7 separate regions of the Homo sapiens genome follow, and regions 1, 2, 3, 4, 5 and 7 are each reported to be linked to region 6. The links are microRNA targets in miRTarBase. Many come from high-throughput screens and were not tested one by one. Region 6 holds a microRNA gene; each other region holds the end of a gene's coding sequence.

Region 1 (4,453 bases), not on the chromosome of region 6:
TTTCCCATGTTTTAAATAAAAGTTTCTTTTGTTTGTTTGTTTTACAGTGGGTGTTTCTTCCCGATCAAGATCAGAGATCTCAGTTAATCCTCCCACCCCCAGTTCATGTTGACTACAGGGCTGCTTGCTTCTGTCATCGAAATCTCATTGAAATTGGTTATGTCTGTTCTGTGTGTTTGTCAAGTAAGTTAATGTACCTAGTTTTTCTTTTTTTTCTATGTTGGGGGGCAGGAAAACAGTTTCTCAGCTGTGTTGTTTTTCAGCCACCCTATTGTTTCTTTTTTTTTTTAATTTACAGTATTCTGCAATTTCAGCCCCATTTGTACTACGTGCGAGTAAGTATCTTTGAGATTGTGTGGGTGGCTAATACTTCACAGCTCTAGAACATTAAAAAATGTTTTCCTCTCTGTAATTTCAGGACAGCCTTTAAAATTTCTCTGCCTCCAGTGCTGAAAGCCAAGAAAAAGAAACTGAAAGTGTCTGCCTGAGGATAAAATATTTTCCCCATCTTTTAGAGCTGTTAATAGAAATTATATAGCAGATTCTTTGTTGGGAAGACTGAAAAAAATAAAGATAGGTATAGGATAATTTTTAATATGGTGACCTTACAGAAAATATTTCCCAAACATCCTTTTCATCCTGTGCTTCTGGAGGACTGATTTGTTTGAGGGAATCATTCTATGCATTATATCCTAAAATATTCTATGACTGGTTTCTGTCCATGTTTGTGGCTTTCATTTTTTTAATGGGATGACTATTAGTCAAAGTCAGCTTGTCATGACTCATCATAGGCTTTCTAACCTACTCCCTGAATCCGGGTCCTCATTGTGAAATGCATGCCATACGAAATTTGAACGTAGCTTTGGAAAAAGGGACTATTTGTGGAGTAATGGCATTAATCAACATAGAACATCTTATTTGAATCAACAGTTAACTTCAGTAGTCATGTGAATAAAATTCTTATTGTCTAAATTGAGACAGCCTCAGATATTTGCAGATATTTACTTTTTGTCTGATATCAGTACATATTTGGACAAAGTCATCTAAATAATAGTTTGTCACCAAATAACTACAAAATCTCATTTTAAATGAGTAAGGAGAACGTGTACAGAAGCAAATTTTCTTCAAAATAGTTGTGGGAAGAGCTTATATGTGAAAGCTTATGACTGGTTTTGAGGGAGAACTTACTGGAGAAAATGGACTCTATGTTAAGTATGGTTTTCAGATAGAATTCTTTCCTTTTTTAATGAGGAAAAAAAATCCACATTAATATTGAAACTGCACCTGTAATCCCAGCACTTTGGGAGGCTGAGGACAGAGGATTGCTTGAGCCCAGGAGTTCGAGAGCAGCCTGGGCAGCAAAGTGAGACCCCATCTCTACTAAAAATTTAAATGTATTTATTAAAACTGTTCTCTAGAAGCTTTGGACTGAATCCCAAAAGTGTTTATAAGTTCAAAAGCAAAAGTATTTGTAATTTCAACAACAAAAAATGTATTTCTTTATGTAATCTTGAAATTATTAAAAGTCCTTTTAGCTTCTAGCACATATTTGTACAAAGAGTTTAAGGAATGGTGGCTGGTTTGGTTTGTTTTTTAAAAATGTTTACTGACGAGGCCGGGCGTGGTGGCTCACCCCTGCAATCCCAGCACTTTGGGAGGCCGAGGCAGGCAGATCACAAGGTCAGGAGTTCAAGATCAGCCTGGCCAGTATGGTGAAACCCTGTCTCTACTAAAAATAGAAAAATTAGCCATGCGAAGTAGCAGGTGCCTGTAGTTCCAGCTACTCGGGAGGCTGAGGCAAGAGAATTGCTTGAATCCAGGAGGCAGAGGTTGCAGTGAGCCAAGATAGCGCCTCTGTACTCCAGCCTGGGTGACAGAGCGAGACTCTGTATCAAAAAAAAAAAAGATCGGGCACGTTGGCTCACGCCTGTAATCCCAGCACTTTGGGAGGCCAAGGTGGGTGGATCACGAGGTCAGGAGTGATCAGGCTGGGTTTCTGTTTTGTTTTGTTTTGTGAGACAGAGTCTCGCTCTGTTGCCCAGGCTGGGGTGCAGTGGTGCAAGCTCGGCTCTCTGCAAGCTCTGTCTCCTGGGTTCACGCCATTCTCCTGCCTCAGCCTCCCAAGTAGCTGGGATTACTACTCTACTGAACCCATGAGGCAGAAATTTGAGACCATCCTGCCCAACGTGGTGAAAACATGGTGAAACCCTGTCTCTACTAAAAATACAAAAATTAGCTGGGCGTGGTGGCAGGTGCCTGTAATCCCAGCTACTCAGGAGACTGAGGCAGGAGAATTGCTTGAACCCAGGAGGTGGAGGTTGCAGTGAGCCAAGATCAAGATTGCGCCATTGCACTCCAGCCTGGGCGACAAGAACAAAACTCTGTCTCAAAAAAAAAAAAAAAAAAAAAGTCTGTACTGATAAAACCCATTGTGTACAAAACTTTGTATGTAAGGAAGATTTTAATTTTCTCTTTATACAAGCTGAGTCATATTTAAATAATTTGATGTTGGCTTAGATAATTTCAGATAGATTTTATATTCTGGATTTGTGTTTTTGTTAACAAATATACAAAGACTTTGGTGATCACTTTGCAAATATTTGTTAATCCTTGAGTTTGAGAACCTGTCTTTTAAAAATAATATTTTGTATACTAATTAAGTGTAATGGAAATCACAATTTTAAGTCTAGGAAATAAAGTATTATATATACTTTCAAACAAGCTAGCAAGGCTTTTATTATTACTTTTTTATTTGAAATATCTTATATATTTGGTTAGTTCTGTTTAACTTGTTTTTAACTGTTGCCCTTATGAGTTATTTTATATAAATTTTTACAATAAAATAATTTGATTTTCATATTTGGTTGAATTATTTCCTTTCATTCATTGTTTATCTCATGCTCATTCAACTCTTCTTCAAATGTGTACTTTTAAACTGCATTTGGTCAAATGCCAGACAATTTTTTATTCAACTCCGAAGTACTTTAATTTCAAATCTTGGTCTGCGTGCAGTGGCTCACGCCTGTAATCCCAACACTTTGGGAGGCTGAGGCAGGAGGATCACTTAAGCCTAGGAGTTCAAGACCAGCCCGGGCAGCATGGCAAAACCCTGTCTCTAAAAAAAATATAAAAATTAGCCAGGTGAGGTGGTTCATGCCTGTAGTCCCAGCTACTCCAGAGGCTAAGGTGGGAGGATCGCTTGAGCCCAAGAGGCGCAGGTTACAATGAGTCATGATCATGCCACTGAACTCCAGCCTGGGTGACAGAGTGAGACCCTGTCTCTAAATAAATAAATGCTCCTGGTTTTTGTATGTTGATTTTGTATCCTGCCACTTTACTTATTTCATCAGTTCTAATAGTTTTTTGGTGGTGTCTAGGTTTTTTCGGATATAAGATCGTATCATCTGCAAACAAGGATAATTTTACTTTTTCCTTTTTAATTTGAATACCTTTTATCTCTTTCTCAGGACTTATTGCTCTAGCTAGGACTTTCAACACTATGTTGAATACCAGTGGTGAAAGTGGGCATCCTTACCATGTTCCAGATTTCAGAGGAACGGTTTTCAGTTTTTTTCCTGTTCAGTACGATACTAGCTGTGGGTCTGTTATATGTGGCTTTTGTGTGTGTGTGTTGAAGTATGTTCCTTCTTTGCCCAGTTTTTTGAGGGTTTTTATCATGAAAGGATGTTGAATTTTATCAAATGCTTTTTGAGCATCCATTGAAATGATCAGATGGCTTTTGTTCTTCCTTCGGTTGACACGATGTATCACATTGATTGAGTTGCCTATGTTGAACCATCCTGTTGAACCATCCTTGCATCCCTGGGATGAATCCTACTGGGTCATGATGAATGATTTTTTTTTTTTTTTTTCGAGATGGAGTTTCGCTCTTGTCACCCAGGCTGGTGTGCAATGGTGTGATATCAGCTCACTGCAACCTCTGCCTTCCTGGTTCAAACGATTTCCCTGCCTCAGCCTCCCAAGTAGCGGGGATTACAGGTGCCTGCCACCATGCCCAGCTAATTTTTTTGGATTTTTAGTAGAGACTGGGTTTCACCATGTTGGCCAGGCTGGTCTTGAACTCCTGACCTCAGGTGATCCACCTGCTTTGGCCTCCACAAGTGCTGGGATTACAGGCATGAGCCACCACACCTGATTGAATTATCTGTTTTTTTTTTGGTTTGTTTTTTTTTTGTATTGAGATGGAGTCTTGCTCTGTCACTCATGCTGGAGTGCAGTGGCCTGATCACGGTTCACTGCAACCTCTGCCACCTGGGTTCCAGCGATTCTCCTGCCTCAGCCTCCTGCGTATCTGAGATTATAGGTATGCGCCACCATGCCCGGCTAATTTTTTTGTATTATTAGTAGAGACGGGGTTTCACCATGTTGGCCATGCTGGTCTCGAACTCCTGACCTCAAGTGATCCACCCACCTTGGCCTCCCAAAGTGCTGG
Region 2 (4,453 bases), not on the chromosome of region 6:
ATGAAGGCAAAGGTTGCCTCCCTGGAAGAATCTGAGGGGAACAAGCAGGATTTGAAAGCCTTAAAGGAAGCTGTGAAGGAGATACAGACCTCAGCCAAGTCCAGAGAGTGGGACATGGAGGCCCTGAGAAGTACCCTTCAGACTATGGAGTCTGACATCTACACCGAGGTCCGCGAGCTGGTGAGCCTCAAGCAGGAGCAGCAGGCTTTCAAGGAGGCGGCCGACACGGAGCGGCTCGCCCTGCAGGCCCTCACGGAGAAGCTTCTCAGGTCTGAGGAGTCCGTCTCCCGCCTCCCGGAGGAGATCCGGAGACTGGAGGAAGAGCTCCGCCAGCTGAAGTCCGATTCCCACGGGCCGAAGGAGGACGGAGGCTTCAGACACTCGGAAGCCTTTGAGGCACTCCAGCAAAAGAGTCAGGGACTGGACTCCAGGCTCCAGCACGTGGAGGATGGGGTGCTCTCCATGCAGGTGGCTTCTGCGCGCCAGACCGAGAGCCTGGAGTCCCTCCTGTCCAAGAGCCAGGAGCACGAGCAGCGCCTGGCCGCCCTGCAGGGGCGCCTGGAAGGCCTCGGGTCCTCAGAGGCAGACCAGGATGGCCTGGCCAGCACGGTGAGGAGCCTGGGCGAGACCCAGCTGGTGCTCTACGGTGACGTGGAGGAGCTGAAGAGGAGTGTGGGCGAGCTCCCCAGCACCGTGGAATCACTCCAGAAGGTGCAGGAGCAGGTGCACACGCTGCTCAGTCAGGACCAAGCCCAGGCCGCCCGTCTGCCTCCTCAGGACTTCCTGGACAGACTTTCTTCTCTAGACAACCTGAAAGCCTCAGTCAGCCAAGTGGAGGCGGACTTGAAAATGCTCAGGACTGCTGTGGACAGTTTGGTTGCATACTCGGTCAAAATAGAAACCAACGAGAACAATCTGGAATCAGCCAAGGGTTTACTAGATGACCTGAGGAATGATCTGGATAGGTTGTTTGTGAAAGTGGAGAAGATTCACGAAAAGGTCTAAATGAATTGCGTGTGCAGGGCGCGGATTTAAAGTCCAATTTCTCATGACCAAAAAATGTGTGGTTTTTTCCCATGTGTCCCCTACCCCCCAATTTCTTGTCCCCTCTTAAAGAGCAGTTGTCACCACCTGAACACCAAGGCATTGTATTTTCATGCCCAGTTAACTTATTTACAATATTTAAGTTCTCTGCTTCTGCATTTGGTTGGTTTCCTGAAGCGCAGCCCCTGTGAATAACAGGTGGCTTTTCATGGATGTCTCTAGTCAGAGAAAAATGATAAAGGCTTAAATTGAGGATTAACAGAAGCAGATTAACCTCAGAAATCCTGTCTGGCTGGCAGATTTCAAGTAAAAAAAAAAAAAAGGTGGGTTGGGGGGACCCTTTTCTTTCTAGTTGTCTTTAAGGAAAATTAATTTTACTTTTTTTTTTGTTCTGGCCGAAATTTTTATGAGATATCTCTCACTTGTCTTCCACTTTGAACCGGTTAAAGCTCATAGCTGTCAGCTCTGAATGAGGAGGGGAGAAGCCCCTGGGTCTTTCTTTGAAAGGAATCCGCTGCTTGAGGGCTGCCTCCCTCATGGTGTGCGTGTCGTTTCTCTTCCTGACGCATCTTGTGATATCAGAGGTAACTATGCAAAGCATCCAGGCGGTTCTGAATGTGAAGCACTACACCCAGCAGAGTCCCGGTGCCCTCTGTCCCCACTGCCGGCCCATGTTCTCTCTCCGGAGGTCACCAAGGAATGCACAGGTTTCGACTACCAGAAAGGGGAGTCCTTGGGTTCTTTCAAAAAATTCGTGAGGAGAGCTGTCTACAGTGGAATAGGGGGTCTCCCTGGGGAATGCAGGCCAAGTCCTTTTATTTTAACATGATGTCCATGAAGAGGTTTGCCGTCTGGGCAGCCCTGTCGGCAAGGAGCGTGCATACTGCGTTTGTGTAATTGTTTGCTGTATCTCCCTTCCCTCTGAGCTGTATTGTTCTTTAATGGCTGTCTTGCCCTTCCAAAAAAAATTGAAAAAAAAAAAAAAAAAAAAACCCGAAAAGTAAAAAAAAAAAAAAAAAGTTTTGTTTAGTTTACTGTGAAATGAACTGTATGGCTTATTTACAGTATTTTTAATTCTTAATAAACACTTGAGCTTTGTTATGACTTTTCCAGAGTGGTTACATTCTGAGAATTTCGTAATTATGATGTGTTTTATTAGCACATGGTATAAACGATTAGCAAATAGGTAAGTTTACTATTTTAAGGCTGTTTTTTCTTTTAATTCTGAAACCGAGATGGCCTCACTCTTGGGCCGGGGACCTCCTTTGATGGACTGTTAGCAAGTGTGTTCAATGATTACTTGTCTCCAGCTCTGTTAGCTTCAAGCACAGGATCTCAACCCTCACTACCTATTAGAATCTTCCTAGGAGCTTTTAAAAAATGCCTGGGCCCTGCCCGCACAGATGCTGATTGAATAGGCATAAAGAGGCTGGCACTGTTTTTTTTTTTTTTTTTTTTGAGACAGAGTCTCGCTCTGTCACCCAGGCTGGAGTGCAGTAGCAGGATCTTGGCTCACTGCAAGCTCCGCCTCCCGGGTTCTGGCCATTCTCTTGCCTCAGCCTCCTGGGTAGCTGGGACTACAGGCGCTTGCCACCACGCCCGGCTAATTTTTTGTATTTTTAGTAGAGACAGGGTTTCACCGTATTAGCCAGGATGGTCTCAATCTCCTGACCTCGTGATCTGCCCGCCTCGACCTCCCAAAGTGCTGGGATTACAGGTGTGAGCCGCCATGCCTGGCCAGCACTGGTATTTTAAAGGCTCCCTCTCTGATTTTAATGTCCAGTCAGGGTTGAGAACCAGTGTCTCAGACCATCTGAGTGACCTTCAGCCCTAGTGCACACCTGGGCTTGTTTCCTTCTCTGGATTGCCTTCCACCCTCCACCCAATAAAAACCACATGCTGTTTATTGAGTACCTGTGTGCCAGGTCTTGTGCTCAGCATGCATAATAACCTGTTATTCCTTCTTACAGTCCCCCGAGGTAGGCAGTATCATTTCCCATTTCACAGAGGAACAGCAGGCTGAGAAGCTTCATACAAGGTCATTCATTACGAAGTGGCAGGGCTAAGCTTTGGACCTCATCCTTGCTCTAACTGGGACAGCATCCTCTACCGTCCACTGACACCAGTGCAGGTCCATTTGGCCTGTGGAATATCTGTCCTGTTCCAGAGCCCAAGGCTGCAAGAGATTTCTTCTTTCCCACCTAGGGAGTAGAGGGTGGCTAGGACCTGAGGTCCTGTGGCTTGATGTCCCCCTTTCTGGCTGAAAGGCCCCTCATCTCTGAATTGCTGTCAGTCACTCTGGGTCCCTCAAAGCTTCACAACTCAGAGCTGGAAGTTTTTTCCAAAGCAGTTAGCAAATCAGGACAGGCTCTGTAAATAATTTCTATTTTTATTTCAAAACCATTTTACTTTTTATTTTAAAGTCTTAAGTATTGACATGTATGCTTTAAATGGCTACTTTCACCCACTTGGGGAGGGTGCGGAACAGCATAAAGTCGCAGGCATGGAAAAAATTAAATTCATTTCCTTTTCAGGCCAATTGGTTGCATTGAGTATGTTCTTGCTGTTTCTCCTGTCATTTCTGCAGTTGCTCATCTCTGACTATGGAGTGGTTTAATAGATTCTCATTAATATTATAAAAGAAAATATTGACAAGTGTCTGATAAATATAAATTCAAGTGGTGAAAATAAAAGGAATATATTAGGAATTCACATATTTCTGATGGTGGGGCAGTTAGAGTTCTTACACCAAATAATGCAGCTCAGTCTTGTTTCTTCATTCAATATAGTGTTCATTCATTCAATAAACATTTATTGGGCTGATAGCCAGCCATTTTGCTAAGTATCAGTGAATTAAAATGTACAGGACTAGCCCAGTGGGAATGACAGTCATGTAAAGTGGTAGGTATTAGAAATACAGGTGCCATACTTGGGTGTATTGGGCCAAGAGGAAGGAGTGACCATTGTGCCATGGTTGGTCTAGAGGTGGTTAGAACAGGTTTTTGAAGGGCTGGGGGAAGTCCCTTGGAATGCTTTCATGAGTAATGGGAAGCTTCGGGAAACAGGTTGTTTTGCCCTTTGAACAAACAATATACACAAATTACTGAACATGTTGGTTAAATTGCAGATCCAGCACCAGGATAAGAGGCTGCAGTGAAACTTCTCAGGCAGGACTGACAGCACCCTGGTGAGGAGACTACTACACCACTGACCATGTGGCCTTGGGCAAGTCACTTAGAATGGTGATGGTGTTGATAATAGAGATGATGGTGGAGATGGAGATGATGATGGTGGTGATGAAGATGATGTGATGGTACAGGGTGGTTGTCAGGACTGAATGAGCGTGTTGAGGGGTTAGCACAGAATCTGGCACATCATAAGTGCTTCAGTGATCATGCGTGCATGGATC
Region 3 (4,432 bases), not on the chromosome of region 6:
GGGGAATGGGTTGAAGGCAGAAGCAACCAGTTTGGAGGGAAGGCATTTGGATATCCAGCCCTTTCTCTGTGGCCTTGGCCCTGGGTCTGTCCTGTTACCCCACCCATACCTGTCTGCTGCGCACTCTGTGCTTCTGTAGCATTCTCGCTTCTGGCCTTTAAAGTTGGCAAGGGGAGGTTAATAAGCACCTAGGTGGCTGAGTGTCTCTGTCTTCTGGCTTGTTCACAGGACTTCGAGTAAGAAGGTGATTTACAGCCAGCCTAGTGCCCGAAGTGAAGTGAGTATGCCTCCCCTGGGCAGGGGTGGGCCACCTGGGGCTGGAGTGAGGAGATTTCTAGCCCATGTTTATGTGTTTTGGGGATTATCAGCTAAAGAAGACTATTGAGAGTTGACTGGATGTTTTATTTCTGCAGGGAGAATTCAAACAGACCTCGTCATTCCTGGTGTGAGCCTGGTCGGCTCACCGCCTATCATCTGCATTTGCCTTACTCAGGTGCTACCGGACTCTGGCCCCTGATGTCTGTAGTTTCACAGGATGCCTTATTTGTCTTCTACACCCCACAGGGCCCCCTACTTCTTCGGATGTGTTTTTAATAATGTCAGCTATGTGCCCCATCCTCCTTCATGCCCTCCCTCCCTTTCCTACCACTGCTGAGTGGCCTGGAACTTGTTTAAAGTGTTTATTCCCCATTTCTTTGAGGGATCAGGAAGGAATCCTGGGTATGCCATTGACTTCCCTTCTAAGTAGACAGCAAAAATGGCGGGGGTCGCAGGAATCTGCACTCAACTGCCCACCTGGCTGGCAGGGATCTTTGAATAGGTATCTTGAGCTTGGTTCTGGGCTCTTTCCTTGTGTACTGACGACCAGGGCCAGCTGTTCTAGAGCGGGAATTAGAGGCTAGAGCGGCTGAAATGGTTGTTTGGTGATGACACTGGGGTCCTTCCATCTCTGGGGCCCACTCTCTTCTGTCTTCCCATGGGAAGTGCCACTGGGATCCCTCTGCCCTGTCCTCCTGAATACAAGCTGACTGACATTGACTGTGTCTGTGGAAAATGGGAGCTCTTGTTGTGGAGAGCATAGTAAATTTTCAGAGAACTTGAAGCCAAAAGGATTTAAAACCGCTGCTCTAAAGAAAAGAAAACTGGAGGCTGGGCGCAGTGGCTCACGCCTATAATCCCAGAGGCTGAGGCAGGCGGATCACCTGAGGTCAGGAGTTCAAGATCAGCCTGACCAACATGGAGAAACCCTACTAAAAATACAAAGTTAGCCAGGCATAGTGGTGCATGCCTGTAATCCCAGCTGCTCAGGAGCCTGGCAACAAGAGCAAAACTCCAGCTCAAAAAAAAAAAGAAAGAAAAGAAAGCTGGAGCTGGTGGCTTAGGCCATCACCCTTCCCTTGGCTGGAACTACTGGACAGACCCTTTTGAGATGTGCCTGTGGTGCTGTGGAGATGTGTGTAGTGGTCTTAGCTCTTTGTTGAGCTTGTGTGTGTGTTGTGTAGTCTTAGCTGTATGCTGAAATTGGGCGTGTGTTGGAGGGCTTCTTAGCTCTTTGGTGAGATTGTATTTCTATGTGTTTGTATCAGCTGAATGTTGCTGGAAATAAAACCTTGGTTTGTCAAGGCTCTTTTTTGTGGGAAGTAAGTAGGGGAAAAGGTCTTTGAGGGTTCCTAGGCTCCTTTGTACAACAGGAAAATGCCTCAAAGCCTTGCTTCCCAGCAACCTGGGGCTGGTTCCCAGTGCCTGGTCCTGCCCCTTCCTGGTTCTTATCTCAAGGCAGAGCTTCTGAATTTCAGGCCTTCATTCCAGAGCCCTCTTGTGGCCAGGCCTTCCTTTGCTGGAGGAAGGTACACAGGGTGAAGCTGATGCTGTACTTGGGGGATCTCCTTGGCCTGTTCCACCAAGTGAGAGAAGGTACTTACTCTTGTACCTCCTGTTCAGCCAGGTGCATTAACAGACCTCCCTACAGCTGTAGGAACTACTGTCCCAGAGCTGAGGCAAGGGGATTTCTCAGGTCATTTGGAGAACAAGTGCTTTAGTAGTAGTTTAAAGTAGTAACTGCTACTGTATTTAGTGGGGTGGAATTCAGAAGAAATTTGAAGACCAGATCATGGGTGGTCTGCATGTGAATGAACAGGAATGAGCCGGACAGCCTGGCTGTCATTGCTTTCTTCCTCCCCATTTGGACCCTTCTCTGCCCTTACATTTTTGTTTCTCCATCTACCACCATCCACCAGTCTATTTATTAACTTAGCAAGAGGACAAGTAAAGGGCCCTCTTGGCTTGATTTTGCTTCTTTCTTTCTGTGGAGGATATACTAAGTGCGACTTTGCCCTATCCTATTTGGAAATCCCTAACAGAATTGAGTTTTCTATTAAGGATCCAAAAAGAAAAACAAAATGCTAATGAAGCCATCAGTCAAGGGTCACATGCCAATAAACAATAAATTTTCCAGAAGAAATGAAATCCAACTAGACAAATAAAGTAGAGCTTATGAAATGGTTCAGTAAAGATGAGTTTGTTGTTTTTTGTTTTGTTTTGTTTTGTTTTTTTAAAGACGGAGTCTCGCTCTGTCACCCAGGCTGGAGTGCAGTGGTATGATCTTGGCTCACTGTAACCTCCGCCTCCCGGGTTCAAGCCATTCTCCTGCCTCAGTCTCCTGAGTAGCTGGGATTACGGGTGCGTGCCACCATGCCTGGCTAATTTTTGTGTTTTTAGTAGAGACAGGGTTTCACCATGTTGGTCGGGCTGGTCTCAAACTCCTGACCTCTTGATCCGCCTGCCTTGGCCTCCCAAAGTGATGGGATTACAGATGTGAGCCACCGTGCCTAGCCAAGGATGAGATTTTTAAAGTATGTTTCAGTTCTGTGTCATGGTTGGAAGACAGAGTAGGAAGGATATGGAAAAGGTCATGGGGAAGCAGAGGTGATTCATGGCTCTGTGAATTTGAGGTGAATGGTTCCTTATTGTCTAGGCCACTTGTGAAGAATATGAGTCAGTTATTGCCAGCCTTGGAATTTACTTCTCTAGCTTACAATGGACCTTTTGAACTGGAAAACACCTTGTCTGCATTCACTTTAAAATGTCAAAACTAATTTTTATAATAAATGTTTATTTTCACATTGAGTTTGTTTAAATCCTGAAGTTCTTACCTTAAGAGAATTGGGACTCCTAGAGTGATTGGACATTCAAAATATTCCTGATAGTCTTGTTAATTAAGAGATTAGGATATCTTTCCATTACCTTGATAATTACGTTTTAATTTAGCTTTTTTCATTGGCCTGTGTTTAAATGCAAATAACCCCACAATGGACATTTCCTATGTTAAAGTGACATTTAGGGGATAAAAAATGAGAGCAGTTCCATGGATTTTGGTGTTTCCCCTGAGACATGAACTCAGCATAATCTGGGATAAAATGATTGAGTGTTAAGGATGTGTTTGTTGTTCCTGTCGTTTTTTTATTTTCTTCAAAGTATACAACATGGTTTGATATGCACATACATTTGTGTAATGATTGCCATGGTCAATTAACACATCACCATTTTTGTGTGTGTGTGTGTGTGTGTGTGTGAGGGAGTCTTGCTCCGTTGCCAGGCTGGAGTGCAATGGTACAACCTTGGCTCACTGCAACCTCCACCTCCTGGGTTCAAGCAATTCTCTTGCCTCAGCCTCCTAAGTAGCTGGGACTATAGGCGTGTGCCACCATGCCCAGCTAATTTTTGTATTTTTAGTAGAGACGGGGTTTCACCATGTTGGCCAGGATGATCTCGATCCCTTGACCTCATGATCCGCCCACCTCGGCCTCCCAAAGTGCTGGGATTACAGGCGTGAGTCACTGCACCCGGCCACATCACCTCCCATGTTCTATCTTACGTATTCAGAACTTGTTCATCTTGTAACTGAAAGCGTGTACCCTTTGACCAACACTGTTTTTCCTGTCTTAACAGGATCTACAGATCAAGGACAGGGGAGGGGATAGTGGAGGAAAACGGAGTTAGTCTGTTTCTAAATGAGGGGACAGTATGTTTCTTGGGGCCTGAGGACAGCTTAATAAAGTAGACAAATGAAGAAAAACAACAATTTGCATTAAAAAATATCCAATTCTTTAGCTTTTCCAGCTTATTACCCCTTCTCTGGTACTAGCTATGAAAATCTGATATGAAACGGAACATTTTTTCTTTTCTTTTCTTTCTTTTTTTTTTTTTTTGAGACTGAGTCTTACTCTATCACCCAGGCTGGAGTGCAGTGGAGCGATCTCAGCTCACTGCAACTTCTCCCTCTGAGTTCAAGCGATTCTCCTGCCTCAGCCTCCCGAGCAGCTGGGATTACAGGCGCCTGCCACTGCACCCGGATAATTTTTTTTTTAATAGTTTTAGTGGAGACAGGGTTTCACCAGCTTGGCCAGGCTGGTTTTAAACTCCTGATCTCGTG
Region 4 (4,390 bases), not on the chromosome of region 6:
TCTTTTTTAAACTTTTTAAGAAACAAGATATCGCTGTTTGCCCAGAATGATCTGGAACTCCTGGCTTCCAGTGATCCTCCTGCCTCAGCCTCCCAAGTAGCTGGGATTATAGGCGTGACACTCTGCACCCAGCTCTTTCCTTCTTATACTCATTAATGATTTCTTGGTAATATGAAAACTTCATAATTAAAGTTCAATTAACCTGAATTATTATTAATTAATCTTCATGTTAATCCTCAATTCAGGTTAATCTTCAATTAAAAGAATATATCAACAATTAGTTCTTATGCATACAGCCAATGAATGACACTCAAGAAAAATAATAAAATGCATTATTTATAGATAATGAATATATCCAGAATTTTCCATTGGGCCAAACATTCCTTTTCCCAAGTTTCTCTGTTCTAGAGCAGTTTATCATTTCTTTTTTCTTTTTTTTTTTTTGAGACGGAGTCTCACTCTGTCGCCCAGGCTGGAGTGCAGTGGCGAGATCTCGGCTCACTGCAACCTCTTGCCTCCCAGGTTCAAGCAACTCTCCTGCCTCAGCCTTCCTAGTAGCTGGGATTACAGGCATGCACCACCACACCCAGCTAATTTTTGTATTTTTAGTAGAGATAGAGTTTCACCATGTTGGCCAGGCTGGTCTCAAACTCCTGACCTCAGGTGATTCGCCCGCCTTGGCATCCCAAAGTGCTGGGATTACAGGCATGAGCCACTGCACCCAGTGTTTTTTTCTCTTTTTTTTGAGTCAGAGTCTTTCTTGCTCTGTCACCCAGGCTGGAGTGCAACGGCACAATCGTAACTCACTGCAGCCTTGAACTCCTGGGCTCAGGCAATCCGCCTGCCTCAGCCTCCCCAGTAGCTGGGACTCCAGGCATGAACTACTATGCCTGGCTAATTTAAAAAAAAATTATTTTGTGGAGACAAGGTCTCACTTTGTTACCTAGGCTGGTCTTGAACTCTTGGGCTCAAGCAGTCCTCCTGCCTCAGCCTCCCAAAGTGCTGGGATTACAGGCATGAGTCAACCCACCCAGCTATCATTTCATATATAGGTACTTACTAAAATCAGTAAAAGAATCCCTAGGGACCAAAGCTCACCAAGCTCAATGCAGATTTATATCACTGTTGGCTCTAGGCTACACAAGGTCACAGACGCAGCTATGGCCCTGGGAGCTAGGCACTGGCAGGAATGAATATGGAAGGAATAAGGAAGAAATATGAGCTGTAGTAACGCTGGGGTAACATTCCAGAACCATCCACAACAGTGGGACTTACCTTTTTAAAAGACATATAATCTTTTGGGAGTCTCCCCAGGAAAATATATTTTGTTGTTGTTGTTGTTGTTTGAGACGGAGTCTCGCTCTGTTGCCCAGGCTGGAGTGCAGTGGCGCGATCTCAGCTCACTGCAAGCTCCGCCTCCCGGGTTCTGGCCATTCTCCTGCCTGAGCCTCCCAAGTAGCTGGGAATACAGGCGCCTGCCACCACGCCCGGCTAATTTTTTGTATTTTTAGTAGAGACGGGGTTTCACTGTGTTAGCCAGGCTGGTCTTGATCTCCTGACCTCAGGTGATCTGCCCGCCTCAGCCTCCCAAAGTGCTGGGATTACAGGTGTGAGTCATTGAGCCGGGCCTTTTTGTTTTGTTTTGTTTTTTGAGACAGTTTTGCTCTCGTTGCCCAGGCTGGAGTGCAACAGCGCAATCTCAGCTCACCGCAACCTCCACCTCCCAGGTTCGGCCTTCCAAAGTAACTGGGATTATAGGCATGCACCACCAAGCCCAGCTAATTTTGTATTTTTAATAGAGATAGGGTTTCTTCATGTGGGTCAGGCTGGTCTCGAACTCCCGATCTCAGGTGATCCGCCCACCTAGGCCTACCAAAGTGCTGGTATTACAGGCATGAGCCACTGCACCCAGCCAGGAAAATACATTTAAACTCAAACTACTGTATATATACTTCGTAGACTCCATGAAACCCATCCAGTGAATTCTTAGAGGTCCAAGACCCCTGATTAATAACTGTTGGCTGGGCGCGGTGGCTCACGCCTGTAATCCTGGCACTTTGGGAGGCCAAGGTGGGTGGATCACTTGAGGTCAGGAGTTCAAGACCAGCCTGGCCAACATGGTGAAACCCCCATCTCTACTAAAAATACAAAAATTAGCTGGGTGCGGTGGCGTGCACCTGTAGTCCTAGGAGGCCGAGGCAGGAGAATCGCTTGAACCTGGGAGGCAGAGGTTACAGTGAGCCGAGGTCGTGCCACGGCACTCCAGCCTGGGCAACAGAGTGAGACTCCGTTTCCAAAAAAAAAAAAAAAGAACTGTTGACCTATACTTCTACCAGATTCCCATTCCTCCTGCTGTCAAAGAGTCTGCAGCACCCCGCTTCCCACTTTCCTTCTCACACTTGGGGCTACACCAGTAGAGAGGTTGTATGTGCTTGAGAAGGTGGGAGTCTGCTCTGCCTGTGGCCTACTAAAGAGTCTATACTTCTTTAATTATTGCCCTTGTTTTTAGTATTTCAGGGTTGGTCCACAGGACTCAGGGAAGGAGAAAAAAGTATAAAAATTTCTTTTCTTATTACAAGAATTCCAAGATGTGTCAGAGTTGACCAGAAGCATAGAGAAAACTACATAGTCGAGTACCCACCAGGGGAATGTGGTAGAATTGGCAGTCTGTTGGTCTCTTTGTAATGTCAGATTAAAGAAATCACCTGGAGGCTGACATTGGCCCCTTCCCTTCCCAGGAGGCAGATCTGGCCTAAATACGGAGATGCGTACAAAGAAGACCTAGGATCACAATCGTTCTTAGCCATCAAACTCTTCTTCCAGGTCCTAGAGAAAGTGGCCACTCTATACCAAAGCCAAAGAACTGCAGAGTACTCCTCTTGGTTGGGGTTTCATATTGCTCTTGCAATTCAGTTTCCTCTCATCTTTGCTGTCATTTCGTGGGTACCAACAGCCTTGGCCAGGTGTGAGAAGTGTCCATTACTATTGTTTGCTCTGACTATCTTGCGCAAAGATGCCAAGTAAGGCTGGAGCAAAGGCCTTGGTGATACTCTTGCCTTGGACAGATAAATGGTGGTAGTGTAGCTAGTCCCTCAGTTGCACCTGTTTGTATTCCAAAGGCAGTAAACACAGATGTTCAGAAGCCCTTTATAATCAAGATGTCAAATATCTGAAATTATTCCCCAGCTCTGACAAAACTTGCCTTCTGGGTGTGGAGACAAAACAAGAATTTGTGACTACTGCTGATCACATCTAGAACTGCCTTGAGGCTGGCCATGAAGACTTGAAACCACAATTTTCACTGAGGATCTAAACCTCAGATCACATTTGTTTGGGGCTACTGTGGGGTAAGGGGATATTAAGGATGTAAAAGGGATGTTGCAAATGCTCATGAGACCAGGTTTTGTGGCACGCTAGGGCCACCACTAATTCTCCATGATGACTTCTCCACAGGACTTGCTTAAGCACAGGCACAGGACCCACCAATAATCAGATGTGCACTCTACACAGACTGCACCCACCGAGAACAGGTCACAGTCCTGTGACACAAACCCATATACACAACCGAGAGGTTGGCATTTTGGTCCATGCTTATTTAACAAATTCCCTTCTGCTGTGGGCACTAGGACAGGGGGCTGGCAATACTCAGATGAGCTGTCCCACCCCCAAGTCCAAAGCAGCAGCTCTCAGGCCTCCTCTGCTGCCTCATGCCATTCCAAACATGATGGCTGGGCTTACACACCTATCTTACTGGAAGCCTCCCTCTCTGTGTTCCCTTTCCACCACTATTCCATTACTTCCACAGGAGCTGGAGGCTGCCCCATCCACTCCAAGCCAGAGAACAAGCAGAGGCTGCCACAGGAGATCCTGGGCAAGTAATCAGCCACAGCATCTAGATTAGCATGAAGGAAACACTGGCCAAATTAAAAGATGAAACTTCCAAAAGGTAAATCTCTGTGTATTCATGCCTAATCTTCCAAGGTTGTGTAAATAATTTTTTTCTACCATCCCCCATCATTTGCATACATTTTTGTCAAGTCCAAACATAATTTGAAGTGAGGTAGGTAGTTTCTCTCTACTTGTGCCGTTGTCCTTGGGGTGATGTCGGGGCCTGTGCCCTGAACGCACTTGTCTCCTGTGCAGGGGCAGTGCCAGGGCTGGCATCAGTGGCTGGTGGAGCTTCTCAGTTGGCTATTTTCTCAATCTCGTCCAAATCATCTGTGTCCAATCTTTCTATCTTCTTATCTGGGGGAAAGATACACAGGTCTCTACCCTGCCCAGGAATGTGCCCCATCTTGGGCCACAGCAATCATTCATTCAGCCCCAAAGGCTCCGGGTGCCTAAGCAGGGGGCAGCAGGGCCCCTAGTCACTGACAGCAACAGTCAGAGC
Region 5 (4,453 bases), not on the chromosome of region 6:
GCTATAGGTTGCCTTCCCCCTCCCCGATCTCGTGTCATATTTTCTATTCAGTTTTCCATTGATTTAACATCAAAAGTCATCTGGACATAGGCCAATTTCAAGTAACATTCGTATAAATTAAAATATTCTTAAATGCAGCTAAAAGGATTAGAATTATCCGAAGTAAACATGTTTACTTTTAAACTGTGTGTACTTTTACTTTTTTTTTTTTTTTTTGAGATGGAGTCTCGCTCTGTCGCCCAGGCTGGAGTGCAGTGGCGCAATCTCGCCTCACTGCAACCTCTGCCTCCTGGATTCTTCTCCTGCCTCAGCTTCCCGAGTAGCTGGGACTACAGGTGCATGCCGACACGCCTGGCTAATTTTTTTGTATTTTAGTAGAGATGGAGCTTCACCGTGTTTCCCAGGCTGGTTGCGAACTCCTGAGCTCAGGCAATCCGCCTGCCTCAGCCTCCCAAAGTGCTGGGATTACAAGCGTGAGCCACTGCGCCCAGCCAGAATTTGAATCTTAATACAAGAACTATGCAATTTTCAGTGGAAATTTTAAGTCTTGTAGCAGGGCTATGGAGTAAGCATTGTAAATATGATCAAAGAGATGAACACATCTTGCATAAAGTATCAATAATCTGGGTGGTATATTACTGCTTAAATGGATGGATCCCAGCAATATCCATTGCAATAAAATTTAACCAAAATGTTTCTGGAAGTTTCTTGGCCATCTGTTACAATAGTATCCAATCTAGAGTATCTATAAAAAGGAATGTTACTCCCTTTCATGCTTTTTTTGGCCTCAAATGCCAGAACCTTTCGAATTTGAGAATTTTCTGAGTCTTATCAAAAACAGGATGAGGAGATAAAAACAGAGTTCTGACTCTGTATTCTTTTCAGACTCTCAGAAAAGTGTCTGGATTGAACACAAAAAATTTAGGCTTATCAGGTCACTTTATTGCAGCAGTAACACTTCATTCAGAAATTAGAAAGGATTTAGTTTGACTAGATTAAAGCACAAATTTTTATATTAGTATTTTTCATTTTCTTTGTGCATTTTAAACTTTTAGAACTTTTCCCACAAAAAACATAGTACTAAATATGCATTTATGGAATTTAGCATCTTACGTTTATACTTTTTCTTCTTAATTTTATATTATTATAGCAGAGTATTCTCCGTATGAGTCTATTACAATAGAACTTTTTCAGTGTTATAGATCCAGTTTGATTCATTCCATTAAACTGAAAACTACATATGTGAAGTTTAATATACAAACACATATGCTGAGATCTAAGTTATATATACTTGTCACTGCTGTTTTAATATGGAAACTAACCAAGCAATTTCTTTTAGTTTCAGATGATCACTTTTTTCCTAAAATCAGCCAAATTTTGAAAAGAAAAACACTGTAGAGGTCTTTACAGAGTAAAGTTTTCATTTTTAAATTACTTTCTGTAAAATTGGGGAGAAGGTGTTTTGAGGGGAGTCTGTGCTAAAACTTAAAACAAAATTTAACATTTATTTTTTGTTTTTGATTTTCTTTTACAGACAGGGTTCTGCTCAGTTGAACAGGCTAGAGTACAGTGGCATAGCTCACTGCAGCCTCCATCTCAAGGCTCAAGCAATCCTTCCACTACCTCAGCCTCTGAGTAGCTGGGGCTACAGGTGGGCACCATCATGCCTGGCTAATTTTTAAATTTTTTGTAGACACAGGGTCTCATTATGTTACCCAAGCTGGTCTTGAACTTCTGGGCTCAAGTGATCCCCCTGCCTTGGACTACCAAAGTGCTAGGATTACAGGCATGAGCCACTATGCTTGGCCTAATTTTTTTTTTTATTTTTAGTAGAGACAGGATCTTGCTATGTTGCCCAGGCTGGTCTCAAACTCCTGGGCTCAAGCAATCTTCCCTCCTCAGCCTCCCAAAGTGCTGGGATTATAGGCGCAAGCCACCTTACCCAGCCAAAATTAACATTTATAATAGTGGGTTTGATGATTGGTCTTAGTAGTATGTTTTGTTGAACTTCTCAAAAATGAGAAAGTAACGTTTTATATAACTGGACATGACTGAATGAAATCATTTTCTAAAAGCTTATAATAAGGACATGAAAGGGTAGTATGGTCAAAATGTAGATTTTTTTTCCTGCAAAAGAACCATCCACAGGCAAATTATCTAAGTCCCCTGAATATGAAATATGACACTATTAGAAGTGGTAAGGTGCAACTGCATGTATGACAAAGTAAGTTGCTGAATGTCTTCACAATCAAAAGCACTAACTTTTAAAGGCCTCAAGTACTAAAGCATAATTTTAGGGATAGAGGAAAGTGTTCTTGTTTTTGTAAATGAGTATGGGTCATGGCATGACTTTGGTTTTATTTTGGGTCCTCAAACTGAGAGCTTTCTTATGATAATCTGTATATAAATAGCAAAAAAAAACAATGGGAATGTTCATAGGATAAATAATATGAGTGCAAATTTTTGCCAGAAAGTTCTGGAAATGTAGGACTTGGTTCTTTTTATAAGTGCTTTTAACCTTTTCAGACTCATTAATTTCATAAACCAATTTAAGCAATTATTTCTATCAGCTACAGATATTTTCTTCACAAATATAAAGGGTTTTGCTCCCCTCCCCATCCTCCAGCCTCCACCAATTTGTGCCTGTAACTGCCACTTGATAGCTGCTCAGTAAGACTTTAAATATCAGGTTCTAGTGCCAACAAATCCAGAAGTCAGAAAAATTCTAAGTTACAATCGCCAGAATATCTTTCATGCATTCTATTTTACTTTATTGTTACAGTTTAAACAAATTCAGAAACGTGGGGTGTTTCTGGCTACTTGAGTAAAACGCACTGCAAACGCAAAGGGAACAACGCTGTAAACTTAAATGATTTCTGAACAGCTCAGGATCCTCCTGGAGGGGATCCTTTTCATCTCACATATTGATTCTGAACACTATGTTAGCACCTGCTCCCAGAAGGTCCCTTGACACTGGAGCAAGTCAGAATATCTTAATATCATAGCTTATTTAACAGCAGGAAAGCAACTTTAACATAGACTTGAGGTTTAGGTAGATCTGGTATTATCTAGAACCCAGGCTTAAATTTTGCAAAAAGTTTCCAAAGAGCATAAGAAAGTAAAACAGAGGTACCAGAACTGAAGACATCATTAACAAACAAAATATTTCCACTCCTAACCAAACTGCAACCCTTTCAGTATAGCCTGAGGTATTTTTAAACATTTGTACAAGCTAAAGATCATTCACAGTTTCCAAAGCTGCTTTTTACTGAGATAGCTTCAAATTTTCACAATATGTGACTTTCAGACGTTTTCATATACCAGAGTCTCTGCCCTCAGACTCATGGAAACATCAGAGATATTTAGTGGCAGAAAATGGTTCTTCTAGTGATAAGGGTTCTATTTCCCAATTATTGTGCTATTCCTAGGATGTGATTAAAAAAATATGAAATTTGCAATTTGTATAAAAGGAAAGGAAACTTGCTTAAAATTCAAAAAGCAAGTCCAGTCTGGTGGAGGTATGTAAGATATTAAATAATAGAGTCAGATTCTTTCTTGAACATTCCAGATGAACTTGACAGCAGAGAGTTCTGGTTTTCCAACATTTTCTCCATCTTTTCTTTTCCAGTGGTTTTACTGATCTCTCTTTGCTTCTTACTATGGATCCACGGGATAAAACAAAGCACAGCACCTCCAATAAGGGGAGGGACTCCAGCGAGGTAGAATGCCACATCATAGGAGCCCAGTTTGTCACGAAGTAACCCTGAGAAGGGAAAAAGCTGTCACCAAGGGAGAACAAGTGTGGCTCTGTAGGGGGTCTAGATCAGCCACAGGACTGATTCAGACATCTCAGACATCAGACTTTTTTTTTTTTTTAGGAAACAGATCTGAAATATAAACCCTTTTTGATAGGAAGAAAAAGATCTCATATCTTTAACGTTGTCATAAAGTACAGTCCTCTGGATTTTCATACCAAGACATTACTTGAAAAGATAGAAAGGTAGACGTTTTTTTTTTTTTGAGACAGGGTCTCACTGTGTCACCCAGGCTGGAGTGCGGTAGCATAATCATGGCTCATGCAGGCCTTGACTTCCCAAGCTCAATTGATCCTCCCAGCTCAGCCTCTTGAGTAGCTGGGACTACAGGTGCATGCTACCATGCCTGGCTAATTTTTATATTTTTTGTAGAGATGGGGTTTTGTCACATTACCCAGGCTGGTCTCAAGCTCCTAGGCTAAAGCAATCCTCCCACCTCAGCCTCCCAAAATGCTGAGATTACAGGCATGAGCCACCATGCCCAGCTTTCAAACTACTCTTTGGTGTATTTGTTTTTTATGAAATAACATGAAAACTATTTAACATCATAATTCAAAATTAAGAAAAATTTTAAATTTAATAATTTGGATGAAAGTTAGGTTGTTAAATACATTTTGGAAATAGACTAAGGTTTATAA
Region 6 (4,412 bases):
TTCTTCCCTGGCCACACCCTCTACATCTTCCCAATAAATGGCCCAGTGTCACAGAACAGGCCGGAAATGAGGCCCCAACTCATTCTGCTTCCTGAGTTGGGGGTGGTGAAGGGCAAGGTCCAGCCTTATGATTCCCACTCCCCAGGGCCAGCCAAGTCTCGGGATGGTGAACGTACTGTCTATTGCAACGTACACAAGCATGAACCCCTTGTGCTGTTTTGTGAGAGCTGTGATACTCTCACCTGCCGAGACTGCCAGCTCAATGCCCACAAGGACCACCAGTGAGTCCCAAGGCATAGTGGTTGGGTGGGTGGGTGCCACCCCTTCCGTAGCTTAGTGCTCAGGAACACATCTGTCTGCTCTCAGGTACCAGTTCTTAGAGGATGCAGTGAGGAACCAGCGCAAGCTCCTGGCCTCACTGGTGAAGCGCCTTGGGGACAAACATGCAACATTGCAGAAGAGCACCAAGGAGGTTCGCAGCTCGTAAGTGTGGGTTCTGGGGCTGTGGGGGTGGCCCAGGGCAGCAAGACCCTACCTAGCCTGACCTGCTGTGTCCCCTAGAATCCGCCAGGTGTCTGACGTACAGAAGCGTGTGCAAGTGGATGTCAAGATGGCCATCCTGCAGATCATGAAGGAGCTGAATAAGCGGGGCCGTGTGCTGGTCAATGATGCCCAGGTAAGCCTTGTGCCGGTGAGAAGGGTCCCTGAGCCCCCTCTGCTGATTGATGATGCTGTCTGGGGTGAGGAGTGATCCTAGTATTCTTCTGCCTTCTCTGCTTACCTCATACACCTTCTATCTGCAGAAGGTGACTGAGGGGCAGCAGGAGCGCCTGGAGCGGCAGCACTGGACCATGACCAAGATCCAGAAGCACCAGGAGCACATTCTGCGCTTTGCCTCTTGGGCTCTGGAGAGTGACAACAACACAGCCCTTTTGCTTTCTAAGAAGTTGGTGTGTACTGGTGGGCTCCTGGCTGGTGGGTTCCAGGCAGGTGGTTCCCAATACCTCAAATCCCTATTTGTTGTTGGTGTGCTCATTCTTTCCTCCCTTTCACTCCCAACCAGATCTACTTCCAGCTGCACCGGGCCCTCAAGATGATTGTGGATCCCGTGGAGCCACATGGCGAGATGAAGTTTCAGTGGGACCTCAATGCCTGGACCAAGAGTGCCGAGGCCTTTGGTGGGTCCCCAGCTTTACCTCACTCTGTTATTACCCCACGTGCTGCACCTACTTACGTTTCTCTCTTCTTTTTGCAGGCAAGATTGTGGCAGAGCGTCCTGGCACTAACTCAACAGGCCCTGCACCCATGGCCCCTCCAAGAGCCCCAGGGCCCCTGAGCAAGCAGGGCTCTGGCAGCAGCCAGGTGAGCAGGAGAGAGGACCCAGGAAGGGGTGGGCAGGGAATGGGGTCCAGTAGCAGGAGAGAGGACCCAGGCAGGGGGGGTGGGCAGGGAATGGGGTCCAGTAGGGTTCCTGTCCCACTGAGGCAGAGGGTTCTGCTTTGTTCACAGCCCATGGAGGTGCAGGAAGGCTATGGCTTTGGGTCAGGTGAGTGGGTCTGCCTAGTGGGTGGGGAAGGGCCCCAGTGCTGTTTCTACCCCAACCTGCCAGTCTTCTTTCTCCATTTTCTAAGGAGATGATCCCTACTCAAGTGCAGAGCCCCATGTGTCAGGTGTGAAACGGTAAGTATGGCACCTCCCCTGGGGGTGAGGTGGATGGAGGGTGGGGGTGTACTCATGCCAGGTTGCTGCATCTACAGGTCCCGCTCAGGTGAGGGCGAGGTGAGCGGCCTTATGCGCAAGGTGCCACGAGTGAGCCTTGAACGCCTGGACCTGGACCTCACAGCTGACAGCCAGCCACCCGTCTTCAAGGTCTTCCCAGGCAGTACCACTGAGGACTACAACCTTATTGTTATTGAACGTGGCGCTGCCGCTGCAGCTACCGGCCAGCCAGGGACTGCGCCTGCAGGAACCCCTGGTGCCCCACCCCTGGCTGGCATGGCCATTGTCAAGGTAAGCCTGTCCCAAGGAACTATAGCTGTAGGATGAAGCCTGTAGTCCAGGTCTGGACCCTGTTGAACACCCCTCATCACCACCTTGCAGGAGGAGGAGACGGAGGCTGCCATTGGAGCCCCTCCTACTGCCACTGAGGGCCCTGAGACCAAACCTGTGCTTATGGCTCTTGCGGAGGGTCCTGGTGCTGAGGGTCCCCGCCTGGCCTCACCTAGTGGCAGCACCAGCTCAGGGCTGGAGGTGGTGGCTCCTGAGGGTACCTCAGCCCCAGGTGGTGGCCCGGGAACCCTGGATGACAGTGCCACCATTTGCCGTGTCTGCCAGAAGCCAGGCGATCTGGTTATGTGCAACCAGTGTGAGTTTTGTTTCCACCTGGACTGTCACCTGCCGGCCCTGCAGGATGTACCAGGGTGAGTGTGAGGCTGGTGGGGGTCAAGTCTGGGTGTTGGGCTGTCTGGACAGGATCATGTGCAGACCCTTATTTTCTTCACCCTAGGGAGGAGTGGAGCTGCTCACTCTGCCATGTGCTCCCTGACCTGAAGGAGGAGGATGGCAGCCTCAGCCTGGATGGTGCAGACAGCACTGGCGTGGTGGCCAAGCTCTCACCAGCCAACCAGCGGGTGAGGGCTGGGGTTACTTAGGTGGGGTTGCCCAGAGAGGCTTTATAGGTGCTGCCCAGAGCTGTGACATCCCTTACAATGTTTGTAGAAATGTGAGCGTGTACTGCTGGCCCTATTCTGTCACGAACCCTGCCGCCCCCTGCATCAGCTGGCTACCGACTCCACCTTCTCCCTGGTGAGTCCTAGGATGGGAAAGGGGAAGGGGGTGGTGGCTGCTGGGTCTCGCCCTCAACCTGTGCATGTATATGTGTGTCTTTGTGTGTGTATGTGTGATCTCTGCCTGCAGGACCAGCCCGGTGGCACCCTGGATCTGACCCTGATCCGTGCCCGCCTCCAGGAGAAGTTGTCACCTCCCTACAGCTCCCCACAGGAGTTTGCCCAGGATGTGGGCCGCATGTTCAAGCAATTCAACAAGTTAACTGAGGTGAGCCAGTGGAATGGAGAGGCTGTGGGCAGGGGGAGATGTGAAGGAAAGAACTAGGACCCATTCATCCACTGCATTCCTGCTTGGCCCAGGACAAGGCAGACGTGCAGTCCATCATCGGCCTGCAGCGCTTCTTCGAGACGCGCATGAACGAGGCCTTCGGTGACACCAAGTTCTCTGCTGTGCTGGTGGAGCCCCCGCCGATGAGCCTGCCTGGTGCTGGCCTGAGTTCCCAGGAGCTGTCTGGTGGCCCTGGTGATGGCCCCTGAGGCTGGAGCCCCCATGGCCAGCCCAGCCTGGCTCTGTTCTCTGTCCTGTCACCCCATCCCCACTCCCCTGGTGGCCTGACTCCCACTCCCTGGTGGCCCCATCCCCCAGTTCCTCACGATATGGTTTTTACTTCTGTGGATTTAATAAAAACTTCACCAGTTCCTCAGGCGTTGGCTGGTTGGGGGACTGTGGTCCTGGGGCCTGGTTTATTGACTGTATCTACTAGTCAGCCTTATCAAGCACTGGTGGCACAAGGGAGGGGGGTCTTGTCCCCCACCTATCGAAGCCCATGTGTATGGATGCCTAGGGAGTGGGGAAGACTGCCTCCTTGCCCTTTCTGGGTATGGGGAGGGTCACCCAGGGCAAAGGATGTACACACTAGAGGCTTGTTGGGTACCCTGTGGGATACTGGGTAGGTGTGACCTACATCCCTGTGTAGGCAGGGTTAGCCCCAGGTGTAGCACAGCCACTCTACTGAATGCTTCCTAAATTTTGGTGCTGTAGCTGTTTCTCATCTTCAGAAGGTCCCACAGTGAACTGAGACCTTCCAGATGTGGTTTTTTTCCCTGTCTCCCTTTGCTGAGTCCACTTAACATTATCATTCATCTCTGTGTTATGATTTAGTTACTCTACAGTCGAGCCTGTGTGAATCCCAAGGCCACCCCCTTGCCTCTATTGGTTGGTCTGGACTGTCCTTGAGTGTTGTCATTAAACCATCACTGGACCAAACAGTGTTGGACACTACAGCCTGGCAGATGAGGCCTGGACTCTCAAGATCCTACCAGGGTGTTTGGGCAGTCCAGTATCTTGGGAGAGGTGATGGAGAAGGGCCCACAGCTCACCTGAAGCTCCCAGCTCCTGAAAATCCCAGGTGGACTTTGCTTGTTCACCCCTGCCCCAAACCCCCACCCTTAGCTTAGTACCAAGTGCCTCTTGCCTTAGTGATGCCCATCCTCCCAGGGACCCCAGTCTGGTCCCACATCAGGCCAAAAGTCACATGGGCCTGGAGACTAGTGTCAAATCTCTTTTATTACAGAGGGGTTGTGGTAAAAGATCCTGGGCATCCACTGGTTATCTCGGAGTGGCAG
Region 7 (4,417 bases), not on the chromosome of region 6:
TTTTTGAGACGGAGTCTCACTCTGTCGCCCAGGCTAGAGTGCAGTGGCCCGATCTCGGCTCACTGCAAGCTCCGCCTCCCAGGTTCACACCATTCTCCTGCCTCAGCCTCCCAAGTAGCTGGGACTACAGGCCCCCGCCACCATGCCCGGCTAATTTTTTGTACTTTTAGTAGAGACGGGGTTTCACCGTGTTAGCCAGGATGGTCTCGATCTCCTGACCTCGTGATCCACCCACCTCAGCCTCCCAAAGTGCTGGGATTACAGGCGTGAGCCACCGCACCCGGTTTATATCTTTATTTTTAAGCTTTTTTTTCTTTTTTGAGACTGAGTCTCACTGTTGCCCAGGCTGGAGTGCAGTGGCGTGATCTTGGCTCACTGCAAACTCTGCCTCCCGGGTTCAAGTGATTCTCCTGCCTCAGCCTCCTGAGTAGCTGAGATTACAGGCTTGTGCCACCATGCCCAGCTAATTTTTGTATGTTTACTAGAGACAGGGTTTTGCCATGCTGGCCAGGCTGGTCTCGAACTTCTGACCTCAGGTGAACCACCCACCTCGGCCTCCCAAAGTGCTGGGATTACAGGCGTGAGCCACCATGCCTGGCCTCTGGCTGCAGTATCTGTGGCAGAATGGGACAGGCGAGGATTGAGAACCAGGACATCTGGCTTTTGCCTGTTAACTGACTGTGTGACCCTTGGGAAGTTACTTCTGCTTTTTGGGTTTCTTCATTTGAACAATGAATGGAGGACTAGGTAATTGGTATGCTTTTCAAACATTGGAGAGATTTTCCACACCAACATTCTAGAGGCTAGCTCCAGACATCCTCTTGTGCCCCTTCTCTCTCATGAAAAATGTCCAGTACTGCTGATATAGTTTGGATGTGTGTCCCCACCCAAATCTCATATTGAAATGTAATCCCCAATCTTGGAGGTGGGGCCTAGTGGGAGGTGACTGGATCATGGGGGTGCATTTCTCATGAATGGTTTAACAGCATTCCACTTGGTACTGTCCTCTTGAGTGTTCTTGTGAGATCTGGGTGTTTAAAACGTGTGTGGCACCTCCTCCTGCGCCCCCTTGCTCCTACTCTGGCCACATAAGATGTGTCTGCTTCCCCTTTGCCTTTCCACTATGATTGTAAGTTTCCTGAGGCCTCCCCAGAAGCAGAAGCTACTATGCTTCCTGTATAGCCTGCAGAACTGTGAGCCAATTAAACCTCTTTTCTTTATAAATTAAATTACCCAGTCTCAGGTATTTCTTTACAGCAATTCGAGAATGGATTAATACAATTGCCAATTTTCCTTTTCTTTTTTTAAAAAATAAAAGCCAAAATAACACTTTTAAGATCCCAGGTTTTAGACAAGGCAGCTGTAGTCTCTCCATCATCCTCACTGTCCATTTGCTTCTTCCTGGGACAGACACTGTGGCCCAGTGAAGCTGAGGGGACCCTGGGATTCAAAGCTGGTGGAATGGACCCTCCCTCCCCCCACAAGCTGTAATAACCTGCTGGAATCCCACACAACCTGAGGGCTTCACTTGTCAACAGCTCCCTTCCCTCAGAGGCTATTTTGAGGCAGGCATTCGGTGTTTTATGACTGAGCTACCCAGGAGAATGGTTTGAGGCCACACTCAACTGTTCCAAGGAGCAGCACTGGACCAAAGGCTGCTTGGTTCCCTGCGGTTCCTGATGCCACCCCTTCTCTTCAGGGTGGTTACCTAGAAGACAACAGTACATGAGGCTTCCAGCCCAGCCCTAGGAGATCCATCCCAAAGACCCCACAGAGACCTGCATGGGAGGTGGGGCCACAGGTCTGGTATCAGGCAAACCTAGGTTGGAACACTGGCTCCATAAAGAGGAAGTCACTTAACCTTCTCTGGGGCATGGTTTCTTCATCTGTTCCCACCTCTGAAGACTATCGTAAGACAGAATGAAAGTTAAGCAACTTAACGCAACGCCCAGGATACCAGAATTATTCTAAATGGCAGAATCCTACTTAGTCTGTCATCTTGGGAGTTCTCTAGGCAGGCAGGTTGCCAGGGGTGGGGCTGAGATCCAGATGTGCTCTAGGTCCCTGTCTGCTGCAGAATCATGTGGCTGCTGGACCTGGGGGTCCCCCAGGTCCTTGCAGGAGCTGAGGGTAGGAGACTCCATTTGCCAAACAACTTAGAACTTTGGGCCTCAGTTTCCTTGTCTTTAAAAGGAACAGGTAAAGAATTCATAAAAACAATTGACAAGGGCTGCCTGGAATTTCCCTGTAATCTCTTCCAGGCAGAGGAGGCCTCAGAGGTGAGAGTAAGAGCAGGAAAACAGGGACAGGTTTCACTCTGTTGCCCAGGTGTGGTGGCTCAGGTCTGTAATCCCAGCACTTTGGGAGGCTGAGATGGGAGGATCGCTTGAGGCCAGGAGTTTGAGATCAGCCTGGGCAACACAGTGAGACCCATCTCTGCCAAAAAAATAAAACAATAAACCAGGCATGGTGGTACATACCTGTTAGTCTTAGCTACTCGGGAGGCTGAGGCAGGAGGACTGATTGATCCCAGGAGTTCAAGGCTGCAGTAAGCTGTGCCTGGGTGACAGAGCAAGACCCTGTCTCTCAAGAAAAAAAAAAAAAAAAAAAAAAGGCTGGGCGTGGTGGCTCATGCCTGTAACCCCAGCACTTTGGGAGGCTGAGGCAGGTGGATCATGAGGTCAGGAGATTGAGACCATCCTGGCCAACATGGCAAAACCCCGTCTCTATTAAAGAATGCAAAAAATTAGCCGGATGTGGTGGCACACGCCTGTAGTCCCAGCTACTCAGGGGACTTGCTTGAACCTGGGAGCGGGAGGTTGCAGTGAGCCGAGATCACACCACTGCACTCCAGCGTGGCAACAGAGCAAGACTCTGTCTCAAAAAGAAGAAACAAACAAACAACAAAAAAAACAGCACAGAAGGGTGGTGCTGTGGGCAGAGGGGTATTTCCAGTGGATGGGCTGTTACTGTTTTCTCAGGTTGGTCAAGATCACAGGCCCATGGAATGCTGGGGCCAGAAGGCACTAAGGCCACAGCATCAACATCTACTTCCCAGAGCATAACACCAAGGCCCAGAGCAACTGGGTAATGTGCTGGGAGCTACAATGAGTTTGAGGCAGAGTCTGGGCTAAAACCCATGTCTCCAGACGGGTTTAGGGAGGATCTTAGAAGTTTTAGAAAACATAATGCTTAGTTATGGCTGGGTGTGGTGTCTCACGCCTGTAATCCCAGCACTTTGGGAGGCCGAGGCAGGCAGATCACCTGAGGTCAGGAGTTTGAGACCAGCCTGGCCAACATGGTGAAACCCCATCTCTATAAAAGTTACCCAGGTGTGTTATGCACCTGTAATCCCAGCTACTCGGGAGGCTGAGGCAGGAGAATCATTTGAACCTGGGAGGCAGAGGTTGTAGTGAGCCGCCGAGATCGTGCCACTGCACTCCAGCCTGGGCGACAGAGCGAGACTCTGTCTCAAAAAAAAAAAAAGAAAATATAATGCTTAGTTCTGGTTTAAATTTGCTCACTGACTTTTCTTCTTTGAAGAATCAAATCTAGCTTATGACTCATAAACTAGATAACTATGATAATCTAGTTTATGATTCAGATACACTACGGTGGTAAATTCCTACAATTCAACTTCATGATTTAGCTCTAGTGCTGTAGGAGGGGTCCAGAGAGCTGAGGTCTGCCACTGCACTCAGGCTTGTGGGGGCTGGGTAACACCACCCTGCAGGTGGTAGTGAGAAAAAGAGGACTTGGGTGTTGTTATCTTCTGTGGCAGCAGCTGCCCTGGGGGTTCTGCAGGGAGGGGACAGGGTGAGGCCTTGGGGATAGGGCATTCGGGGCCCACCAGCCTGTGTGGCCTCAGTCTCAGGGAGAAGGAGCACCCGGGTGGCAGTAGAAGCCTCCAGGGAACCTCAGCTGGCATCATTGATGGGAGTGCGGGTGCCACCCAGCAGTCTCTCCTGCTCGCTCTCCTCTGCCAGGGGCCGGCCCCTGGACAGGCGGCCCAGCAGCGGACGGTGTAGCCCATTGTAGAGGGCAGTGCCTATAAGGAGTATGAGGAAGCCAAGGATCTGCAGTGCATGGAAGGCCTCCCAGCCCAGTGCCAGGCTCAGTGCCCAGATGACAACGGTGCGCAAGCTGTCCAACACCATGCGGGTGGTGGCGCTCAGTTCCTTGGTGACGCTGATGCCTGCGAAGTTGAAGAAGGCAATGCTGCTGATGTTGCCCAGCAGTGCCACGGCAATGAGCGGCTGCTGGCCCACCTGGCAGAAGGCGTCCAATGCATCCTCCAGTGTCCCACGAGGGTTTCCGCTGAAGGAGCCGGCGGGGATGTAGTACATGGGCACCAGCAGCAGGGAGAGGATCACAAAGCCAAAGAGGCCTGGGGAGTAGAGGAAACAGTTACACTCTC

Evidence for each region. Region 6 holds the annotated microRNA hsa-miR-6807-5p (GUGAGCCAGUGGAAUGGAGAGG, at 3,055-3,076, shown strand). A microRNA usually pairs through its seed, bases 2 to 8, with sites in the 3' UTR of a target mRNA and lowers its output. Matches are read on the target gene's strand: a 7mer-m8 pairs with bases 2 to 8, a 7mer-A1 pairs with bases 2 to 7 and ends in A, and an 8mer does both.
Region 1: miRTarBase lists GTF2H3 as a target of hsa-miR-6807-5p. Seed matches in the 3' UTR shown: 7mer-m8 at 1,626-1,632 and 7mer-m8 at 1,918-1,924.
Region 2: miRTarBase lists CKAP4 as a target of hsa-miR-6807-5p. The part of its 3' UTR that is shown has no 7-base or 8-base seed match.
Region 3: miRTarBase lists F11R as a target of hsa-miR-6807-5p. Seed matches in the 3' UTR shown: 7mer-m8 at 1,160-1,166, 7mer-m8 at 2,605-2,611 and 7mer-m8 at 3,619-3,625.
Region 4: the mRNA of DDX19B is a reported target of hsa-miR-6807-5p. The part of its 3' UTR that is shown has no 7-base or 8-base seed match.
Region 5: the mRNA of SLC16A10 is a reported target of hsa-miR-6807-5p. Seed matches in the 3' UTR shown: 7mer-m8 at 1,790-1,796 and 7mer-m8 at 475-481.
Region 7: miRTarBase lists SLC35F6 as a target of hsa-miR-6807-5p. The part of its 3' UTR that is shown has no 7-base or 8-base seed match.

The regions. Positions count from the first base shown.
Region 1 is chr12:123,659,748-123,664,200 of GRCh38, forward strand. It overlaps GTF2H3 (general transcription factor IIH subunit 3), which reads left to right. Exons shown (of 13, transcript NM_001516.5): 11 at 48-183; 12 at 299-335; 13 at 419-2,857. The coding sequence ends at 488. Among named protein-coding and RNA genes, the nearest start is that of TCTN2, 9.1 kb to the right of the region's middle. RefSeq lists an enhancer at 1-790.
Region 2 is chr12:106,235,576-106,240,028 of GRCh38, reverse strand. CKAP4 (cytoskeleton associated protein 4) reads left to right here. Exons shown (of 2, transcript NM_006825.4): 2 at 1-2,148. The coding sequence ends at 1,005. Among named protein-coding and RNA genes, the nearest start is that of CKAP4, 10 kb to the left of the region's middle.
Region 3 is chr1:160,994,888-160,999,319 of GRCh38, reverse strand. F11R (F11 receptor) reads left to right here. Exons shown (of 10, transcript NM_016946.6): 9 at 229-277; 10 at 414-4,109. The coding sequence ends at 449. Among named protein-coding and RNA genes, the nearest start is that of F11R, 24 kb to the left of the region's middle.
Region 4 is chr16:70,333,376-70,337,765 of GRCh38, reverse strand. DDX19B (DEAD-box helicase 19B) reads right to left here. Exons shown (of 12, transcript NM_007242.7): 12 at 2,461-4,245. The coding sequence ends at 4,184. It overlaps DDX19A-DT (DDX19A divergent transcript), which reads left to right. Exons shown (of 5, transcript NR_039997.1): 3 at 3,806-3,946. Among named protein-coding and RNA genes, the nearest start is that of DDX19A-DT, 11 kb to the left of the region's middle. RefSeq lists an enhancer at 3,987-4,390.
Region 5 is chr6:111,221,313-111,225,765 of GRCh38, reverse strand. SLC16A10 (solute carrier family 16 member 10) reads right to left here. Exons shown (of 6, transcript NM_018593.5): 6 at 1-3,763. The coding sequence ends at 3,531. Among named protein-coding and RNA genes, the nearest start is that of SLC60A2-DT, 36 kb to the left of the region's middle.
Region 6 is chr19:58,547,231-58,551,642 of GRCh38, forward strand. MIR6807 (microRNA 6807) reads left to right here and starts at 3,055; the gene lies at 3,055-3,146. It overlaps TRIM28 (tripartite motif containing 28), which reads left to right. Exons shown (of 17, transcript NM_005762.3): 4 at 146-281; 5 at 367-483; 6 at 562-676; 7 at 804-950; 8 at 1,064-1,178; 9 at 1,256-1,362; 10 at 1,510-1,546; 11 at 1,632-1,680; 12 at 1,758-2,010; 13 at 2,101-2,420; 14 at 2,507-2,630; 15 at 2,719-2,805; 16 at 2,917-3,054; 17 at 3,147-3,485. The coding sequence ends at 3,323. CHMP2A (charged multivesicular body protein 2A) reads right to left here. Exons shown (of 6, transcript NM_014453.4): 6 at 4,336-4,412.
Region 7 is chr2:26,778,012-26,782,428 of GRCh38, reverse strand. SLC35F6 (solute carrier family 35 member F6) reads right to left here. Exons shown (of 6, transcript NM_017877.4): 6 at 1,198-4,387. The coding sequence ends at 3,918. Among named protein-coding and RNA genes, the nearest start is that of CENPA, 5.8 kb to the left of the region's middle.